Regions from separate parts of the Homo sapiens genome. Here region 2 is linked to region 1. A link means that fine-mapping ties the variant in region 1 to the expression of a gene that starts in the linked region. Tissue or cell type: whole blood. Region 1 holds a variant in brackets; the other region holds the start of a gene. All regions are shown on one strand. Distances are from middle to middle.

Region 1 (2,756 bases):
CTCAGACCCCTGGGATTTTGCATTAAAGGGAAGTGTCCCACGGCTGGGACATGTGGGCTGTAGAGGACCTCCTCGGGTTGGAAGCCCTGTGTGATCTTGAGCTGACCACACCCTCTCTCTGGACTTCCTTTTCCTCTCTGGACTGTTGTGACCACATGGGATGACAGGTGGGAAAGAGCTTGAAAATAGTCTTCTCTAGATGCAGGCAAGGGGCTGAGTAGTGAACGGGAGAAGGAGCCACGGGGCTCGTGTATCAGGCAGCCTGAGCCAAGGCAGCAGGGCAGGGACCACGCAGCGATAGGAGTTCATGTCCAGCAGGGAGTGTATACAAACCTCAGAGGGAGGATAAGGGATGTAAACAAGGGATGGGCCCGGAGGGACAAGTAATGCGGGAAGTGTGAGGTCCCCAGGGAGACCATGCTGGTGGAGGGCCCAGAGTTGTGAGGTGCAGCCCTGAGCAGTCTGGGGGTGGATGGAAGTGGGGCAGGGTGCACACACGTTAGGAATGGACCAGTCATCATTATCACCTGGTGAGGGAGTGGGGAGGTGCGGGGAATCAGGCGGGAGAGCTGGGGGATGGGGCTGGAACTGGAAAGGCTCTCAGAGCTGAGCCAGTCCAGTCCCCCTACCCTCAGAACCCTGTGCCCCGTGACCCTCATCACCAGCACCCTCGGCTGGGCCCTGGGGAGTCCTGGGAGGAAGGCGGTTTCTACTGTCTAGGGGCAGCCAGGCCAGATCTGTGCAAAAATAACTCACCCTGAGCATCCTTCCAGAGATACACGCTGGGAGTTCTGCAGGGTCCCCTGAGAGCTGAGGAGGAGGAAGAGGGGAAGTGGGAGTTCCAGCAGGACTTTGAAGGATGGGGGCGGTTTCTCCAAATGGGAGGAGGAGGGAGGTCAAAGGGCAGGTTTGGGCCAGTGTGATGGCTCAGGCCTGTAATCGGCACTTTGGGAGGCCAAGGTGGGAGAATTCCTTGAAGCCAGGAGTTCTCAAGACCAGCCTGAGCAACATAGCAAGACACCATCTCTACAAAAAGTAAAAAAAAAAAAAGTTACCTTTTTAGCCAAGTGTGGTGACACAGGCCTGTAGCCCTAGCTACCTGGGAGGCTGAGATGGGAAGATCGCTTGAGTCCAGGAGTTCAAGACTGCAGTGAGCTATGATGGCACCACTGCACTCCTGCCTGAGTGAGTGAGACCCTGTCTCTAATAAAGAAAATAAATAACTATTTTG[G/A]TGGCTCACACCTGTAATCTCAGCACTTTGGGAGGCTGAGGCAAGCAGATCACTTGAGGTCAGGAGATCGAGAGCAGCCTGGCCAACAAGGTGAAACCCTGTTTCTACTAAAAACACAAACATTTGCTGAGTGTGGTGGCGCATGCCTGTAATCCCAACTCCTCAGAGGGCTGAGGCATGACAATCACTTGAGCCCAGGAGGCGGAGCCCAGGTTGCAGTGAGCTGAGATCCTACCACGCACTCCAGCCTGTAAAACAGAGGAAGACCCTATCTCAAAAAATAATAATAAATAAATTCAATAATTTAAAAAACAAAAACAAGGGCAGGTTTGGAGAGCTGTGGGGTCAGCTTGGCTCTGCAGAGAGTTCAGTGTGCGGGGGTGTCCTGGGAGGAGGATCTGCTTGAGGGGCTCAAGGCAGGCTGTGAGCTCTCTGAGTCTTGACACTCACCTTTCTCTGAATGTTCTCTGTTCTCTTGGCTTCTGGATCTTTCCATGCACTGTTCCCTTGTCCTGAGATGCCTTTCCTTTCCAAACTTGCTGGACCAAAGCTTTGACCTTCAAGGTTCATTGTTTGCATTCCCAGCTCTGTGAATTCCTTCTCTCCCGCCAACCTTCCAACCCCTGGAGATTGACAGGTCCCAGCCCAGCACCTACCTGTGTCATTGCCTCTCTGCTCCCTACTGAGATGGTCCATGGTCCTGTGTGTCTCCTCCACAGATCATGTTCCCAAGGACAAGGACCCTCACTCAGGTCCTTAAACCTGACCAGGGCTCTGCCGGTAGTTGATAGTTTATATGAGTTTGTTGACTTGAATGAAATCAATACAAAAATCCGTCCCTTTGCCGGGTGCAGTGGCACATGCCTGTAATTCCAGCACTTTGGGAGGCTGAGGCAGGAGGATCACTTGAGACCGAGAGTTTGAGACCAACCTGGGCAACACAGTGAAACCCTGTCTCTATTAAAAAAAATTCTGTCCCTTACCCCACTGCCAAAAGTATAGGTGAAAAAACTAATATTTGGGCTGGATGCAGTGGCTCATGCCTATAATCCCCGCACTTTGGGAGGTCAAGGCGGGCAGATCACTTGAGGTCAGGAGTTCGAGACCAGCATAGTCAACATGGTGAAACCCTATCTCCACTAAAAATACAAAAATTAGCCAGGCATGGTGGCACACATCTGTAATCCCAGCTACTCGAGAAGCTGAGGCACGAGAATTGCTTGAACCTGAGCGGTGGAGGTTGCAGTGAACCAAGATAGTGCCACTGCCCTCCAGCCTGGGTGACAGGGCAAGACCATGCCTCAAAAAGAAAAGAAAACTAATATTTGAGAAAGGTCAAACAAGTGATACATTAACAGTCTTATTTTATTCGAATCCTTTCCCTAAACACAAGCAAGCAAAGAAACAAACCCTGAGCCTCCTCCAGTCCTCTCCATCCACTTGGTTCCTCAAATCCCCAAACCCAGTTGCTTCCTTGACTCTTAATTTTCCCTCACTCCCAATCCCCACTTCCAATAACAGCTCA
Region 2 (2,500 bases), 71 kb after region 1:
CATTTTCTCTCCTCACCCTCCCATATCAATTCCTCGAAGGCAGGGCCGATCTGGAGACTAGGAAGCCACTTCTCTTTCGACAGCCCCCACCACAGCCCAGCCCGTGCCAGGCACCCAGCAGCTCCTGAAGCCCACTGGCATTGAACATGGCATTCAATCCCTGCCAAGCCTGCCCTTCCCATCTGGTTTCCCAGGGCTCTTCCCAACACCTCCTCCTCCACCTGCCAGTTAAAATCTTCCCAGACTCAGCTCAAGGAGATGCTCCTAAGGTGGAATGAAATCTCTTCTTCCCCACCTGGAGACAATCTACTTCCTCTCCCTACACCTGGCAACTGGCGCACAACCTTGTATCTTAAATTAGATTCAGCCTGAGACTGTCTCCCACCAATCCCTGCTCCCTGTCCTGCTGAGCACCTTGAGGAAAGGGCTTTGGGGCTGTTTATCTTTGTCCTGGAAACCATCCTTCAACTCACTCTGGGGCCTGCCTAGCATGTCAACCGAGTTTGGAGAATAGGGCAGAATAGGGCAGGACAGGACAGGACAAGACAGGGCAGGATAGGATAGGAGCGAGCCAGCTCAGTAGCTCACATTTGTAATCCCAGCGCCTTGGGGGGCTGCGGTAGGAGAATCGCTTTGGGAGCAGGAGTTGCAGGCCGCAGTGAGCTATGATCAGCTTGGGCGACTGAGCGAGACCCTGTCTCTAAAACAAACACACAAGTCCGGGCGCGGTGGCTCATGCCTGTAATCTTAGCACTTTGGGAGGCCGAGGTGGGCGGATCACGAGGTCAAGAAATCGAGACCATCCTGGCCAACATGGTGAAACCCCGTCTCTACTAAAAATACAAAAATTAGCTGGGCGTGGTGGTGCGCGCCTGTAGTCCCAGCTACTCGGGAGGCTGAGGCAGGAGAATCGCTTGAACCCGGGAGGCAGAGGTTGCAGTGAGCCGAGATCGTGCCACTGCACTCCAGCCTGGCGACAGAGTGAGACTCCGTCTCAGAACAAACAAACAAAAGGATAGAAAGGCGAGCACAAATATTCCCAATTCATAACACTCCCTCGCACTGTCAATGCCCCAGACACGCGCTATCATCTCTAGCAAACTCCCCCAGGCGCCTGCAGGATGGGTTAAGGAAGGCGACGAGCACCAGCTGCCCTGCTGAGGCTGTCCCGACGTCACATGATTCTCCAATCACATGATCCCTAGAAATGGGGTGTGGGGCGAGAGGAAGCAGGGAGGAGAGTGATTTGAGTAGAAAAGAAACACAGCATTCCAGGCTGGCCCCACCTCTATATTGATAAGTAGCCAATGGGAGCGGGTAGCCCTGATCCCTGGCCAATGGAAACTGAGGTAGGCGGGTCATCGCGCTGGGGTCTGTAGTCTGAGCGCTACCCGGTTGCTGCTGCCCAAGGACCGCGGAGTCGGACGCAGGTAGGAGAGCGGCCGCGCAGACCTCTCGCCTGCTCCTGCCCAGGGGCCCGCCAGGGCCATGTGAGCTTGAGGTTCCCCTGGAGTCTCAGCCGGAGACAACAGAAGAACCGCTTACTGAAACTCCTTGGGGGTTCTGATACACTAGGGGGAGTTTTATGGGAAAGAGGAAGCAGTAATTGCAGTGACGCCCCGTTAGAAGGGGCTTTCTACCTCCCCAGCATTCCCCCAAAGCAGGGACCACACCATTCTTGACCCAGCTCCACCCCTGTCGGTAGGTGCTGGCTTCTTCCCCTCTCCTGGTGGTGGTGGGTGGTTCCCGCGGCGGCCTGGAGCCGGAGGGGCGCGCGACCCTGGGCTGGGAGCTCCGAGGGCCTGGGAACGAGACCTGAGACCTTGGCTTCTCGAAGGTAGTAGGGACTTGGGAGTGGTGACTGAACCTGGTCTGGCTCCTCCTTACTTCCTCTTGTTGCGGGTGGGACGAGCTAGCTTCCGCCTCTCCCAGCCACTTTTTCCTGCTCATTTGCAGCTAGGTTGGCTCCCCTTTTGGGAATTTCCTCTCCCCTTGGCACTCGGAGTTGGGGGGTGCCACCTAGTGGAAGATAACGGAGCTAGGGTCTTGAAGAGGCTGCTGTCCCCTCTGGCTGTTTTGGCGGTGTAGGGTGGCATGAGAGACTGCGACTCGCCTCCTCATCCCTGTTTCTGTATGCGAGTGCTTGTATTCAGTAGAAGCATACACTATACTCCCTCAATTTAGGGTAAACAGGAGGGGCCACATGCACAGGTAATTCACCAGGGAGCCGAACACTCCTGTGCAGACAGACTCCCCTTCCCAGCAAGCCATGGCAGCGGACAGCCTGCTGAGAACACCCAGGAAGCAGGCGGTGCCAGCTGCAGGTGCTTTGCCTGGGAGCTGTGGGGCTGAGGAGAGGGTCCACTGTCCAGGACCAGTGAACTTCATCCTTATCTGTCCAGGAGGTGGCCTCTTGGGGATGCTGAGTTAGGGGAGGGGCACTTGAGGAAAGCCAGGTGGAGCAGAGAGGATGTGAGTGACTGGGTGGGTGAGATTTCCT

Evidence for each region. PIP is the estimated chance that this variant, and not a neighbour inherited with it, causes the effect.
Region 2: GRN starts here. The variant in region 1 is fine-mapped to the expression of GRN in whole blood (TOPMed, PIP 0.96).

The regions. Positions count from the first base shown.
Region 1 is chr17:44,272,391-44,275,146 of GRCh38, forward strand. LOC105371790 (a long non-coding RNA gene) reads right to left here. Exons shown (of 4, transcript XR_934778.4): 3 at 1,888-2,005; 4 at 1,645-1,788. Among named protein-coding and RNA genes, the nearest start is that of SLC4A1, 5.6 kb to the left of the region's middle. The variant G/A (reference allele first, on the strand shown) is at 1,232.
Region 2 is chr17:44,343,905-44,346,404 of GRCh38, forward strand. GRN (granulin precursor) reads left to right here and starts at 1,398. Exons shown (of 13, transcript NM_002087.4): 1 at 1,398-1,430. RefSeq lists enhancers at 1-369, 1,521-1,670.